Linked DNA regions of Homo sapiens: region 1 is linked to region 2. Evidence: fine-mapped expression QTL. Tissue or cell type: whole blood. Region 2 holds a variant in brackets; the other region holds the start of a gene. All regions are shown on one strand. Distances are between the middles of the regions.

What was found. PIP is the estimated chance that this variant, and not a neighbour inherited with it, causes the effect.
Region 1: it holds the start of MPRIP, and the variant in region 2 is fine-mapped to the expression of MPRIP in whole blood (INTERVAL, PIP 0.98).

What each region holds. Positions count from the first base shown.
Region 1 is chr17:17,038,116-17,046,217 of GRCh38, forward strand. It overlaps MPRIP (myosin phosphatase Rho interacting protein), which reads left to right and starts at 4,342. Exons shown (of 24, transcript NM_001364716.4): 1 at 4,342-4,856. The coding sequence starts at 4,734. LOC124903938 (a long non-coding RNA gene) reads right to left here and starts at 4,210. Exons shown (of 3, transcript XR_007065644.1): 1 at 4,156-4,210; 2 at 3,666-3,793; 3 at 1,228-1,642. RefSeq lists silencers at 3,907-4,366, 6,040-6,334 and an enhancer at 5,029-6,228.
Region 2 is chr17:17,150,091-17,158,192 of GRCh38, forward strand. It overlaps MPRIP (myosin phosphatase Rho interacting protein), which reads left to right. Exons shown (of 24, transcript NM_001364716.4): 12 at 54-143; 13 at 4,216-4,325. Among named protein-coding and RNA genes, the nearest start is that of PLD6, 52 kb to the right of the region's middle. RefSeq lists an enhancer at 251-330. The variant G/A (reference allele first, on the strand shown) is at 5,019.

The DNA.
Region 1 (8,102 bases), 110 kb before region 2:
GCAGGCAGATCACGAGGTCAGGAGATCGAGACCATCCTCACACAGTGAAACCCCGTCTCTACTAAAAAAATACAAAAAAAATTAGCCGGGCGTGATGGCGAGTGCCTGTAGTCCCAGCTACTCAGAAGGCTGAGGCAGGAGAATGGCCTGAACCCAGGAGGCGGAGCTTGCAGTGAGCCAAGATCGTGCCACTGCACTCCAGCCTGGGCGAAAGAGCGAGACTCCATCTCAAACAAAAAAAAAAAAAAAAAAGAAAGAAGTGCTTATGTCCACCAAAGACAAGCACGAAGATACTCGTAGCATTATTCATAATGGCCCCAAACTGGAAACATCCTGAATGTCTATCCACGGGAACATGGACAGATAAATTGTAGTATTTCCACACAAGGGACTACCAGGCAGCAATGAAAAAGAATGAAGTACTGATATATACAGTAGCCGTGTGGATTGAATTTCACAGGCATACTGTTGAATGAGAAGAGCCAGGCATAGCTCGCAGCGGATTCCACTCATCTATGGTGATGGAGATCAAAATAGTGGTTACCTCTGGGTATCTGTGTGTAAATTCTGCTCCCTAACAGGACACAGGGAAAACTTCCCAGGATGGCAGTCAGAGCCACAAATCAAGACTTACCTGCATTTGGGGCTCACCTGAGCGGCCTTTTCTTGCTTGCTTGCTTATTTGCTTTTTTGAGATAAACAATATACATTGAGGTGTACACAATGCAGTGAAAAAAGCATACAGCCCAGTGAATCTTTACATGTTTACACTGAGTATTGAACTTCATGCAAAGTGCTGTTCTAGGCCCCTGGAAAGGGAAGCCAAGGTTATGAGACACAGACTGTGTCGGTATGGATTTCATAATCTGGTGGAGGAGATATTACAATACAAGGTGGAACGATGACTTTTCATCCATTCACCCATGGGGTGTTTTTCTTGTTTGTTTTGTTTTTTGAGACAGAGTCTCACTCTGTCGCCCAGGCTGGAGTGCAGTGGCACGATCTCGGCTCACTGCAAGCTCCGCCTCCCGGGTTCATGCCATTATCCTGCCTCAGCCTCCCTAGTAGCTGGGACTACAGGCGCCTGCCACCAAGCCTGGCTAATTTTTTGTATATTTAGTAGAGACAGGGTTTCACTGTGTTAGCCAGGATGGTCTCGAACTCCTGATCTCATGATCCGCCCGCCTCGGCCTCCCAAAGTGCTGGGACTACAGGTGTGAGCCACTGCACCCCCATGGGGTGTTTTTGAGCCCCTGCTCTATGCCAGGCACTGAACTAGACAGGGGAAATGGAGTAGCAACCAAGACCCCACTCTACCGTGAGGGTTTTGGAGAGGAGCGCAACTAATTGATTCTACCTCCTAAACATTTTCCAAATTCATTCCCTTGCCTCCCACTGACCCTATCCTAGTCAGGCTGCTACCCTCTCTCCTCTGCAGCTCTCTCAGTCCTTGCCCCTGATTCATTCTCCAGATCAGCAGCCCTTACCTAAGTGCTCAGCCGAAAAAAATTCAAAATTGATGACTGCCCCTGGCCCAGGCAGCTCCGGTGCTGGCCTGTGTGGGCTCAAATCTTCACTTGTAGGATCTATAATTGTGACCACAGGCAAGTTCCTGATATGTCCTGAGCCTCGTGTGTGTCTTCTATAAAATGGAGATGAAATAGTATTAACAACAAAAACCATACCTGTCTCCCTGAAGAGGCTAGGCTTGCACCATCCACTACTCCTCCCAGTGCCTCTCAATGCTGGTCACTCCTGCCTCTCTGAACTACCCAGTGATAGAAAGCTGCTTCTGTTCATGAACACACCCTTTGGTTTCAAGGCCTGAGACTCTATAATTGGTGCCCCAGTTTGACGTGTCTTTCCCTTCACCTTCTCTGGCTGGGTCTTACTCAGCTCCAGACTCGGCCTAGGCATTGCCTCCTCCAGGAGCCTTCCCTGAAGCTGCCTACGGGGCTGGGTGCCCCTGTGTGGGCCCCCACAACACCCCGGATTGAACTTCTCTGTCTCCTGTTTCTGTTTGTCTCCACTTGCTTGAGTGTGGGCTCCTGCCGGGCAGGCTGCCTCTGAGTTGCTGAATGAAACTCTTCTTTGCGCCCCTACTGTGGACCCCTCCAGTCCAGTGCAGGTGCTGGATGTGCCTACTGACCTGAGCAGAACATGCTGAGCACTTTAAGGGAGGTGGCCTTGAGGAATGGGCAGGACATCAAGAAAGAAAATATATATATATATATATATATATATGTATGTATATATATATTTTTAAACAAGTTGTACATGCAGACAATACTAAATTCAGCAGAAACAAAAGGGATTGCAATGAAAATTAAAAGTAGGTCACCTCTCAACCACCCAGCTCCCCTCCCCAGTGGCCACCTCTTCTATCAGTTTCTGAGTATTCTCTGCAGGGCAGAATTGTCAGTCTTCCGTCCCTTTTTTATTTTGCAAAAATTTAAAGCAACAGAAAAGTTGCAAGAATAGTACAATAAGGCCGGGCGCGGTGGCTCACGCCTGTAATCCCAGCACTTTGGGAGGCCGAGGCGGGCGGATCACGAGGTCAGGAGATCGAGACCATCCCGGCTAAAACGGTGAAACCCCGTCTCTACTAAAAATACAAAAAATTAGCCGGGCGTAGTGGCGGGCGCCTGTAGTCCCAGCTACTCGGGAGGCTGAGGCAGGAGAATGGTGTGAACCCGGGAGGCGGAGCTTGCAGTGAGCCGAGATCCCGCCACTGCACTCCAGCCTGGGCGACAGAGCGAGACTCCGTCTCAAAAAAAAAAAAAAAAAAAAAAAAAAAAAAGAATAGTACAATAAACACCTTTTGCCTAGATTCACCAATTAACATTATGCTACTTAACAAGCATTATATCATTTAATGTTCACATTAATTAATTAATGCCAATTTTGTACATGAGGTCACTGAGGCACCAGGCAGGTTAAGGGACTTGCCCGAGGCCACAGAGCTCCTGCCTGGTGGAGCTGGGCTTTCCCCCTTAGGCTGCCAAAGGACTTTGATCTGCCTTCCCACAGCTCCCTTTTGAGGAAAAGCATTTTCTTACACTAAGTTGAAATCCACCTCCCTGGGATATTTACCAGATGATCCGTGGAAAAGTACACAGCTCTGGAAGCATTTGCTACTTCTCCTCCTAAAACCTCCTCCATTCCCTGAGCGACAGCTGCTGTGGCTGCCACTACCACATGCTCCAATGTCACCTCCTCCGTGAAGGCTGGGTTAGCTCACCCCCCTGTTTAAAGACTCACCATGACTCCCAGCTGCCAGTGGGATGACATGTGCACGCCTGGGCTTGGAATACAAGGCCTGGGTGATAGAGCCCTCTTCCAATCCCTCTTGCTCCTTCTTCCCCTATCTCCACTTCCAGCCACACTCAACCCTCTCACTGTCCACTTAAACTTCCCCTCCTCCTTGAAGCCACCCGAATTTTTCTAAAGAGCGCATTTCTCCCCTCTCTGGGCTCCTGCAACCTTCTGCCTGAGCCTTTGACAGCCTTTTCCAGGTTGTCTTTTGGCCAGGAGGCTGGACAATGGAGGACGGGAGTGACAGCTCGGCCCCTTCCTAGCAGAGTGATCCTACACAAATTACTCCAGGTGTCTGACCCTTCATTTCCTCAAGCACATCATGGGGGAAAGAATGCCTAGCTCAGCACCTGGCAGAGAGTCAGCCTTCGCTCATCTCCCCTAATGGAGCTGACAGCTCTTCAAGTCCGCTGACATCTTCTCTTAGTCATCCCTTGAAATACTACCCGCTGTTACTTCTCTGCTCCTCAGTCTCCTCCTATGTAAAATGGGGATGAGAAAGGAGAGGTTGCGAACCTTTAATGAGCGAGCCCTTGGAGTATCCAGCCCTTCCCGACGCTAACTGACTCCTACGAGGGGGCCTGGTACACAGTAGGTGCTAAACTAATCCTCTCCGAGCTGGGCTTGGGGAAGATGCCTCCGTTGGGTGTACAGCGTGGGCGCGGGAAGGCGAGCCTGGGAGCGAGGGGGTTGCAGAGAGGCAGCCTGAGGTCGGCTCCGCCTTCCCCCGCATCCCCCGCCCGGGCCCTGCAGCTGTCAGCCCGGCCGGCCTCGGCGCCAGTCCACCAAACCTGAACGTCCCATGCCGGCGCCCCCACCTTCCCGGCCTGCACAACTTACCTTGCGCTCGGCGGCCCTCGGTCCCGCCCCCGACTGCCATTGGCCCAGAGGTTCCTTTGTTAGCGAGAGCGCGCCAACCCCATTGGCCGGTGGGGCTGCCGATCGCGTCGGGCGCGGCCCCGCCCCGTACGCCCCGGCACCTCCCCGCGCCCGGCCGCCCGCCCGCCCGCCCGCCCGCCCGCCCCCGTAGTGCGTGAGGCGCTCCGGTCCCATTTGCAGCGGCCGCGGGGCGCCGAGGGCAGCTGCGGCGGCGCGGACGAGCCGGGACGGCGGCGACCGGAGCCTGAGAGGCGGGCCGCAGCGGGAAGCAGCGGGCCCGAGGCCGCGTCCATGGGCCCGCGGCGGCCGGGCGGCGGCGGTGCGGGCGGGAGCTGGGCGTCGCGCGCGCTGTGAGGCCCGGGCGGCTCAGGAGCCTCGGCGCGTGCAGCGAACCGCCCGCCGGGAAGGAGGCCGGGCCGGGCCTGCGGCGGGGCCGGCGAGGGATGCGGCGCGGCCGCGCTGAGCCCCTAGCCCGCCGGGAGCGCCAGGCCGGCCAGGCCTGCGCCGCCGCCGCCGCCGCCGTCGCCGCCGCGCCGACCATGTCGGCAGCCAAGGAGAACCCGTGCAGGAAATTCCAGGCCAACATCTTCAACAAGAGCAAGTGTCAGAACTGCTTCAAGCCCCGCGAGTCGCATCTGCTCAACGACGAGGACCTGACGCAGGTGAGCGACTGGGGCCGGCCCGGACACCTCCGTTCTGGGAGCCGCGGGTCGGCGGCCGGGGCGCCGCCAAGGGCTGCAGGGAAAATAAAAATGGAGCAGGGAAATGCGCGAGTCCTGGGGCATGGGGACGGGGACGGGAAGTGCATTGACAGAGCTGGGACAAAGGGAAAATCCTCGAGTATGCCGAAAAATAACATCCTTTCCCGTTCCCATTGCCCGGCTGTGTGATTCATGCTTTTTGGGTGACTCAAAAGTGCCTGGTTTCGCTTAGTAGGAACAAAGCGCTTAGGGATTGCATGCCGCTTGACGGGACCCCCCTGAGATTCTGGCTTGGGACTGGACTTGGATTTGTCCAGCCAGAGTGGCCCAGGGGTCGGATTGTTGGGGAGGACTGTGGGCTTCCGTCTAGTGGGACGCAGCCTGCCCCGATTCTGAATCATCGTCACTGTCAAGCACTGGAGAGAGGTGAAGGGGTGTCCAAATCTGGCGAGGAGGGTCTTGTTCTTGAACTTAGTTTGGCAGGCCGTAGTTTAGCGGGGAGCTGGGACCAGTTCCCTGGTCACTGGCCGAGGGGTGAGGAGACCTGTGGGTCCTCGGGAAAGTTGATTTCTGTCTCCCAGCCTTAACTGTCAAACAGGGCTTTGAACTAGTTATGACTCCCAAACGTGCATTAGAGTCATAGCCATTAAACACAGAGTTCTGGGGCCCCCGCCCTGGAGTGACTGGGGAGATGGGGAATTTGTATTGATGAAAGGCTCCAAGAGGCTTGGCTGCAGCCCCCATGGCCCTTGGGAACCCCTGCAGTGATTGCTGTTTGAACTCCTAGTGTTCCAGGATTCCGAGCCTTGTGTGCACCTCCTTGGGATGTGCCTCGGTACCCTCCCCACGGCCATCATCTCCATCCTCTTCAGAGCTTTCTCTCAGCCTCCTGAATGAAGCCAGGGGAAGTCCCTTCACATTCCAGTCCAGTGTGACCTAGTTGTAGCCACTCCTGTCGCAGAAGAACCCCTTAGACTGAAAACGAGTGAACGGGCCTGGTTGTTTTTAATGCCACTTCAGTGCACCCAGGGTTTGACTTGTTTACATGGCCGACTGGAGTAGGGTGGTGGGGCAGGGGTTACGGCCTGGGGCACGGGGCCTTTCTCTGAGGTCAGGTTTCCAACTGCCAGGAAAAGATTCCTTTCATCTAAACCCCAAAAGCTTAACGAAACACTCAAGGCTGCAAAGTCATAGATGGTTAAGATACCAAGGGTTTTAAGGACGGTCAGCTTGGGACGGATAGAACTCATTTACCTCGGAGGGTGTTTTGGAGTGTAAAGGAGAACTTGATTCCTTCTTCTCATCTGGATGCTTTTTTGGATGAAACAGTTTATGCGATGAGGAGTTGTTAGGAGACTTTGCTTCAGGTCTTGGCTGTCACTTCCAGCTGTGTGACCTTGAACAAATCCCTTTACTTCTGTATCTTTTAATTTCCTTATCTGTAAATTGGGAATCCTGGTCCCTGGCTTACCTCCTTCACTGAGCATTTGTGAAAAGCAAGAAATGATATTTTATGAAACTTTTTTCTCTTACAATTTAACAAACCAAAAAAACCTGCCACTTTAAGAAGTTTCTGGGCAAGGGTTGTTCTGAGAGAGGTTTGTAAGTTTCCTGGTTATTCTAAGCAACTGTCAAAATTGGTAAATTTACACCTCATAGGGGCTGTTTTCGAATTCTTAAGCTTAGATAAACTAGGATGGAATCTGCATGTTTGAGTCCAATCTGCTAAGATTTTTTTTAATCTGTTGATTATTAATTGGATTCACGGGGAGAGGCAAACTTAAAATACTGTACTCTCACTGTATTCAAAGTTGAATTGTGGGTTTTGAAACAGGCCTGAGACCTTCAGGGCACAACTGGAATGGTAGTTTCTGAAATAATGAGTGGGGTTATTTGTGCTGGGAGAGGTTAGCCCAGCATTCTACCTCCTGGGATCTTTCAGGAAGAAACTGCTCTTGAAAAGAGAGGAGGGAGACTCAGGGCTGTTGCCAACAGCCTTCTCTGCTGCTCTCTGCATCCGGCCCTCCCTCTCACTCTCATCCTTATGGCTCCATTAGAAAACCTCAACCAATCGGTTCCCATCAGTCTCCCCCAAGCCCCTGCTTCCTGCTGCCCCTCCCAGCCTGGAGCTTATTTTAGACCGTCAAAGCTGGAAGATACATCAGCCACCATCGAGGCCACTCCCTCCTTAAGAGGAGAGGATACTGGGCCCAGGGAGGTGGTGGGCAGCCTTGGCCGGCTTTTGCTCTGGAGATGTCATCTTCCCAGGAGCAGACATTTCTCTGAGCCTTTTGGTTTGAGGTTTATTTCCTCAGCTGTGGGTTTTGTTTGTTTGTTTTTCCCCTAGAGAGGCACAGAAACCTCTTGCAGGGACTGTATTATGGCATCAGACCTGGAAGGGACTTGGAGATCAGCTAATGTAACCACTTCCTCTTACCGGTGAGAAGATTGAAACCCAGAGAAGGGAAGTGACTTGCCCAGTTCAGGGATGGAGCCAGGATTCTGAAGCCAATGTTAGTTCCCCTACTCCTGTTCAGGGTCTACAGTGGCCACACCATGAGCACATGATGAGGACAATAATGTCAGGGATAGTTATGTTGCAGGAGGTGCCTTGAGAATGCTGGCTTGGAGCAGTGGAGTTCTTTGCCTTTTCCTCCTCACGGAAATTTGGAGTAATCTGGGATAAGTGATAAGTGACCGTCCTTTATTACTTGTTCCAGGCCCCTGTTCACAGAGTGTCATTTATCCTCCAGTTTTCCTGTGCATTTCTCAGCGACATACGGACCCAAATATACAGTTTTTTTTTTTTTTTTGAGGCGGAGTCTCGCTCTGTTGCCCAGGCTGGTGTGCAGTGGCGCGATCTGAGCTCACTGCAAGCTACGCCTCCCAGGTTCATGCCATTCTTCTGCCTCAGCCTCCCGAGTAGCTGGGACTACAGGCACCCGCCACCATGCCTGGCTAATTTTTTGTATTTTTAGTAGAGACGAGGTTTCACTGTGTTAGCCAGGATGGTCTTGATCTCCTGACCTCGTGATCCGCCTGCCTCGGCCTCCCAAAGTGCCGGGATTACAGGCGTGAGTCACTGTGCCCAGCTCAAATATACAGTTAAACCTTTTTATCCTGAACTGTGTGCATGTATTTGCTCTGCGACATATTTTTTGTTTTCTGCTTATCAGCATATCTTTACGTTCTTTTCATGGTGTTGCA
Region 2 (8,102 bases):
GGCATTGGTTCTACTTCCTAAAAATCTCAAGACATTCTCACTTCCCTCGGCAGGCAGCCGACTTGGATGGAGAAATTGACTTGTCCGCATGTTACGATGTCACAGAGTATCCAGTTCAGAGAAACTATGGCTTCCAGATACATGTGAGTCCAGGGATGGAAGTGGGGCCACAGGCTTGACAGGCAGGGATGCATGTCAGAGTGCCTAATGTCTGGGCTGGGGGCACTTCTGGACAGGCCTGATGCAGCGTGTATGGTCAGCACTTAGTCTTTCCCACTACCCTTGACACCTCTGTCCTGTGGCACCTGACCCTATTCCCCAATTTGTGATGTGAACAGTACATTAGACGTTAGTATCTTTTTTCTGAAGACTGCTTAAAGCTTTTTTGTTTCTGAAGGTTCCTTTTTTCTTTTGTTTTTTGTAATGCTGGAGTTGGGGCAATTGGAAGGATGTGGGGTATGGGGAATAAGAATGAAAGTGTTAGTCAATTATTTACATCCGCTTTTTACTCACTTATTCATGTGTTTGTTCATTCATTTACTTACAAGGCTATTTTTTCCCAAAATCTTGTGAGGTACTCAGATGAGCAAGGCATTGCACTGTTCTCAAAAAAAAAAAAAAAAAAAAAATCTTATTGGTAGGACAAAATGGTTCTTATTGGCTGTTTCTTCAAAACTGTGTGGATCAAGGACTGCCTGCAGTCAGCCAGACTCCAGGTTAAGAGCACAGTCCTCCTGACTGCCACATCTGCCTCCATTTCTTTTTTTTTCCCCCAAGACAGGGTCTCACTCTCTGTCCAGGCTTGAGTGTAGTGGCACAATCATGGCTCACTGCAGGCTCGAAATCCTAGACTCTAACGATCCTTCTACCTCAGCCTCCAGAGTAACTGGGACTACAGGTGCATGCCACCATGCCCAGCTTATTATTATTATTATTATTATTATTATTATTATCATTATTTAGAGAGACAGGGTTTCACCATGTTGCCCAGGAGGGTTTTGAACCCCTGGGCTCCAGCGATCCACTTGCCTTGGCTTCCCAAAGTGCTGGGATTATAGGCATGAATCACTGTGCCCAGTCCTGCCCCCACTTCTGACACCAGTTGTGAGTCCGGAGGTTTCCAAAACCACCTTCAGTTTCAAAAATTCACTAGAATGACTCACAGGATTCAGGAAAGTACTGTCTTTACAATGAGTTTTATTATAGAGAAAGTATGTAAGTCAGAACCAGCCAAGGGAGAGCCATGTGGAGTAGAATCTGGGACTGGGGGAGTCACAGATGCCAAAAGTTTCTGCATCCTTGGGGACACGGTGTCCTCTTAGCCCTGATGTGGGGCAGTGCGCAGAGCATTGCCCGGAAGCCCACCTGAGCCCCGGTGTTGAGTTTTAGGAGGCTCTGTAGCTGCTGTGGTTGATGGAGTTGTTGTCCTCATAGTTGAACTCCACCTAAAGCCCTTCCCGCCATGGTTGGCTACTTTCACATGGCCCAAACCCCAACCCTCTGATTTAATGGGTTTCCTCTAATTTCCTGCTTCTGGCCAGGCCAGCCTCTACCCTGAGTTGTCTTGTCAGCATGAAGTGTTAGGTGGGGTCCCAGGGTACCACCATGAGTAACAAAGACTCTAGTCATTCAGGAAATTCCAAGGTTTGGAAGTTACCTCCCAGGAGCTAGGACAGAGGCCAGGCCTCTCTTTGGGTAAAGTTAGTTCGTCACTCGCAAGGGCTTTAAGATGGGTGGAGAGTGTGATGAGTAGAGAGCTGCCCCCATGGGGCTGGGCCCTGGCCCTGGGACTTGGTTCTCACACAAGGCTAGACTCTGGTGGGCTCACCTGTAGCAGGGTCATACCTTCAAATTTTGGGGCCCAGAAACTCAATTTTATTGCTGTGTTGAGAGTTGATCCAGTATTTGGGGCTCACTCAGTTTGGCCCAACTTAGAGGAGACTGAAGTATAGACCCAAAGGCCAGTGTGTTCATTTACTAAGAAAATCCTGGCCGCCAGCCCACTGGGCTGCTGGCTGTGGCTTCCTGCGTGCAGGCATCTGCGAGAGGAGCTGAGTCACAGTTGGAGGCTACACTGACAGCCTGGCACCAGGGCCGGGTGTGAGTTGTCTGCTCTTAGTGGCCTGCACTGCCCAAGTTTCAAGGCTCCTCTGTCCTCATCCGCTGTGGGAGGGGTAGGCGGGCATAGTGCCCGGTGAGCCTCCTCTCCTGCCGTCCACCTCCCATCTTCATGAGCAGCTTTCTCCAGGCAGGGCACACCTGAAGTCTGAGAACTCACCCCGCTCTCCTAGTGACAAATGAGGGCATCAGCCACTCTCACCCACTGATCAACCCCTCCTCACTTCACCCTGGTAGGGCTTATCCTGATGACTTTCGGTGATCCCCAACTACTGAGAGTTCTAAGGAATGAGGAGATGCTTCCAGTGTGGAGAAGGCTTCCTGGGGGAGGCTTCCTGGAGAAGGATCCCTCAAGGCTCAGCAGGAGGGATGAGTGTGAAAGCATGTCCCAGACTGGACTCCAGACCTGGTGGCACAGAGAGCACAGAGCCAGTCTGGGGCTAGAGTGCTGGGTGGAGAGTCAGGTTGGCGCTGGTCCAGCCTTTGTGGAGAGCACTGAAGGGTGTTAGAAGATGCCAGTCAGTTGTGCGTTCATGATACATGTCTGGCGGGACATGCAGGTCCATTAGAAAGGAACCAGGCTGGCACGGTAAAGCTGGGCAAGAAAGGAAGGAGCAGCACCTGGGAGGAAGAGGTGAGGGCAGGGCCAGGACCTGGCAAGAAGGCCCCGCCCACTGAGAAGCCAGCAGAAGAGCTGACTTCACAGAAGCAGGGGGATCCCCTGGAATTCCGGCTGTGATCCATTTGAGGCATGATGGGCTCTCAGAGAACATTAGGCAGCCGCTGGGAAAGAAAATTCAGCTGGAGAAAACAGCTGTATGTGGAGTGCTGAGGCCAAACTCCAGCAACGCCCACACCTGGGGGTGGAGAAGGATGGACCCAGGAGAAGGTGGTACCCCCCCAACTCAGCTCACATGGATATGAGAACTGATGAAGGAGGACCGAGCTGGGCAGTGGTGGTGTCTTGATCGGGCATGTGGAGGGGCAGGTCAGGTCCCTCCCAGCTGTGCTTTGTGGCACGTCAGGCCGGTGCGTGATCTCCTGTTTTGGCTTCTGGCCAGGCCACTAGCACCCATCCGAAAACCATCCTCATGATTGCATCCTGCCGTCAGCTTCCCTACTGACCTGGCTGCTGAGTCTGCTTGTGAGCAGCTCTCGGTTCAAGGCTGCAGCCCTCGCTTCTGTTGGGCAGGTGCCTGTAGGTGCAGAAGCAGGCCTCCAGCTCCATGCAGGCCACTGGCCCTCCCCTGCCTGGTACCCAGGCAGGTCTGCTCAGGGGCGCAGTGGTCATGTCCCAGAGCCATGTGCTCTTTGCTGCTTTGTCCTACCTGCTGCCCCGTTCCTCGCCCAAAACAGGCTCCTCCCCTGCTACCTTGCACAAGCACCGAGGACAAGCCCTAGACTCCACCTCATCCAAGCAGGAGTCTAGGGCTTGTCTAGGTGCTCCCCAACCCAACCAGCCAGACGCTGTTCATACCCCTTTTGTTACTTCTGAGCTGCCCTGTCCCCTGCCATCACCTTAATTCTCATCACTTGGACAGCTGCAGTAACCACCCAGCAGGTCTCCCTGCCTTTTCTCAGTGCCACCAACAAGACCCTGATACCCCTTGTTCTTAACCACTCCCTGGGCCCATCATGCCATGTGCCTGTGTGAGTGCAGACTGCAGGTGCCACTCCCCACGCCCAACACACACGCCCTTCCGGATTCCCCACCTCCACCACTGCTCAGCACATGCTGATTCTGCCCTTCCCCCGAGGCTGGGAACTCCTTAAAGAGGGGTGCAGCATCCTCCTCTGTCTGAGTGGACAGGCTGCTGGTGCGTAGTGGGTGCTCAGTAACTGTGAGCTTGTTACTGAGAGAAGATACCGGATTTACCATTGCCACAAATACACGTCCCTCCCACAGCTTTGACGTCTCCTGCTCTCCAGCTCCCTCATGTCCCAGTAGTGGGCACATGTGGCACTCCTAGAAGGGTCACCCAGTCACAGCCTTTCTCCCTGTGGGACTTTACCCAGTGCAGGGAGCTTCTTTGGAGATGGAGGGCAGCAGGCACCCTAGGGGACAGTCACTGATGGTGCCTCATCTTTTCTCTGTAGACAAAGGAGGGCGAGTTTACCCTGTCGGCCATGACATCTGGGATTCGGCGGAACTGGATCCAGACCATCATGAAGCACGTGCACCCGACCACTGCCCCGGATGTGACCAGGTAGGATGGTGAAGACACCAGGGAGCCCTTTGTGCCTCTTGTGGGTGCCACTCCCGCCAGGGCAGTGTCAGACTCAGGTCTGAAGTCTGAGACCTGAGCTCAGTGCATCCCAGTCTGCTGCTCCTTCCTTCCTGTGTCCTTCTGTTGCTCAGGTTCCTGTCCCAAGTAATCAGAACAAACATTTCTGGTTCTTTTCTCTTGTAAGCCCAAGCGTTTCATCTTGCAGGTAGCATGTGTGCTGGTCATTAGAACTGGGCTTTGGTGGAGAATCTTCCATCTGTGTCAGCAGGCACTTGGCCAGACCAGCCTGAGCCCCGCAGTCGGTGCTCTCAGGCCTTGGGCTCTGCTGCTCTAAGGGTGGCCCCATGTGCGGCATCCATAGGCCACCCAGTGCTTCTTTGTCTTGGCCTTCTTTTCACCTCACTCCTACGTCTGTTTGATTTCTGTGCAGCCAATTTGAAAAACCCTCTCCTGTTTTTGCATTCTGTGGTTCATGTGTCTCAGATTTTGCTTTGGGCTTTTTTCCTCCTGCCCTGAAGGTTAAAGACCTAGTTCTCATTTTAAAAGATGGAGAATCAGAAGACTCAGACATATCTAAAACAAAACAAAACAAAAAAAGCAGAGAAGATTCCAGTGTGGGGGCTGGTCCTTTGATGGCCAGAACTCTGCTGTCCCCACCTTCAGAGCCTCCAC[G/A]CATCTGAGCACCTCTGGTGCCATTTCTCAGGTCATGTGATGTAGATTACATCTCGAATGTGTTTCTTGTGCTGTGGGTTAGGCTGCTTGGGTGTGGCAATGTCACAGCGGGGGCTGTCCATGGAAGCTTTGACCTAAAAGCGTGTTCTTTTTTTTTTTTTTGAGATGGAGTCTTGTTCTGTTGCCTAGGCTAGAGTGCAATAACGTGATCTCGGCTCGCTGCAACCTCCACCTCGTGGGTTCAAGCAGTTCTCCTGCCTCAGCCTCCCAAGTAGCTGGGATTACCCACCACACCCGGCTAATTTTTGTATTTTTAGTAGAGACGGGATTTCACCTTGTTGGCCAGGCTGGTCTTGAACTCGTGACCTCAGGTGATCCACTCGCCTTGGCCTCCCAAAGTGCTGAAATTGCAGGCATGAGCCACCACAGCCGGCCTAAAGGCACATTCTGTATCCAAACCTTTGCCTTCTTCCTGCGGACTCCACACCTCTTTACATAAGAAGGAAAGAACTCCTAAATTGATTTCTTTATAGTCCTCTTTTCTGTGTCTGTCATTTGTTCATGACTTCATTTATTAAACAAACACTGTCTAGTAAGGCCAAGAGGCCGTGACCGGGACAGGTTGCCCTCTGTCTCTCAGGATCCTATGCAGAGAGCTGGCTTGTTGTCTAGTGACAAGTCCTCTTTGTGCACAGCCAGCAGGAGGCACCCAGAGCTGCAGCAAGCTCTCCCACCCTCCAGGGGCCACATCCTGTGGTGGCCTCAGCTACTGCTTCCATGGCTCTCCCATCAGGAGCAGACACCCAAGCTTGACAAGCTAAGTGCTCTTTTCCAAGCACCTTTAGGAAGCCACCAGAGCAAAGTGAGAAAGGCCTCAGCTTCTTTGCCCAAGCTATTGGCAGCAGACAGAGCTTATCACGGGGGTCCAGGATGGGGAGTGGTGGGCAGTGCATATGGGTAGCTGGCCTGAGGTCCTCTCCTGCCCCTCTTCCCAGCCAGGCCTGGGCTCGGTGCTGTAGATTGGCAATCCTGTCTGGAAGAAGTCAGCTTTGGGATGTCCCAGGGCAGATGTCAGGAATGCACCTGTGCACATGCCTGTGCCTGCACACAGCTCAGGAGAGGCGCCTCCACGCTTGAGTGCCTGCTTCCCTGCGTGCAGGGGCTATGGGCCCAGGGGAATGAATGAGGAGACAAGGGTTTGGCTCTCACATGAAAGTTGACCTGGCAGTTGGCCTCCTGACTAAGAATTACTTCATAACCTAGCATATCTGCATAGTCTGGTAGAGTGCTCACCCTCCACCAGTTTGTTTTCAGCATTTATTCTTCCTCTGTGTAGGCTTTTATTATTTGAGGAAAAATGTGAGTTTTTTAGTGCTGCCAGGCAAAATCTCAAGGAGGCATGAAAACAAACTGCAGTCTCAGAAGCTGCTGTCCTCGTCCTGCTCTCATCGCCATCTTGAAGTCCTGGGGTGGGGAAGTTGCAGGGTGCTTCCCGCCTTTGGCACTAGAGGAGCCTTGTGGGGAGGTTTCTCCTAGGGAGTGCGGCCGGTTCTGGTGTGGCTGTGACTTTGGCGGCTGTCAGGGCCAGGCTGGGGGCCTCCATGCATGCCCTGCCCTATGTGTCATCCTGACACTCTCCATGGCCAGGAGCTCTTAGTTCAGTGACGTCACAAGATCTGCCCTGTGTCGTTTTCATCCAGATGTTAGCGTGCTCTTACAGTGGACACCTGCAGATCCTGTTGCTGTGAAGCACTTTGCCTCTCACTCGATTGCTGCCTGGACAGGTGACCCTTGCTCCAGGTGGTGACGGCAACCATTTCCTCTTTTCCTTGGTTCTCTCTCTAAAGACTCCTTTCCTTTTGGCCCTAATTGAAACACATGTGCTCCCTGGAGCTCCTCCTTGGGCCCTCACTGTCCTCAGGTGGGCTTGCAACTGCCTTCTGAGGGCCTGGGTGAGATTAGGGGCCCCTCAGTCAGCCTCGGACCAGCTGGCAGTCTGTGGGGCCTATCTCTAGAGTCTACAAACCTTTGCCTCAAACACTCCCAGCCTCCTTGACAAATTGCCATCAGCAATGTCCCTGTCCCTGCCCTACTGCAGACGAGGCCTCCCCAGGAATCTCTGCTTCTAGCAGATGGGGACTAGACATGGATTCCTCAGGCAGACCTGGCTTCACTCCACTTACTGCAGGGCAGGTAGCAGCACCATGAGCACGACCTGCGCAGCTCATGTCCCGTTGCTGGCTGCCGCTTGCCTGCTCAAGGTGGCAGGTAACCCAGTGTCCTTCTCCCCTTCTGCCTTCCTCTCCAAGCCTCTGGCTACTGCATGGTGTGAACTCGTGGCCACCTGGGCCTCCTGTTTCCCTCACCCTTAGGAGGTCCCAGTCTTTCATACTGATCCATCTGTCATGCCAGCAGCTGGATTGGGCTTTTAAAACATAGATTCAGGCTGGGCACAGTAGCTCACGCCTGTAATCCCAGCACTTTGGGAGGCAGGCGGATCACCTGAGGTCAGGAGTTTGAGACCAGCCTGGCCAACATGGAGAAACCCCGTTTCTACTAAAAATACAAAATTAGCCAGGCATGGTAGCGCATGCCGGTAATCCCAGCTACTTGGGAGGCTGAGGCAGGAGAATCGCTTGAACCCAGCAGGCAGAGGTTGTGGTGAGCCGAGATCGCGCCATTGCACTCCAGCCTGGGTAACAAGAGTGAAACTCCATCTCAAAAAAAAAAAAAACAAAACATAGATCTGATCACGTTACCTGCTTATTAAAAGGTAAGCCCTTCTAGAAAGTGCTAGTTTTCCCTCATTCTGTCACCACTGTCCAGTCCAGGGGTGCACAGGGCCCAGGCCTCACCTGGCAGGTACGGTGGCTGTGCCCAGGTGCAGCCTAATGTAGTTCTTGGCCCTGAGCAAGGCAGGGCTGGCCCGTCCTGCCTCTGAGGCTGTGGGAGTCCTGGGACTCCCCTGGCTCCATACCCTGGCAACGGGACCACCACAGTGAGCCCCTCACAGCCTCTTCAGTCAAGGGACCCCCCCAGTGTCATTATGTGGGAAACCTCAGCTTTCTGAGGCTCTTTTCCCTT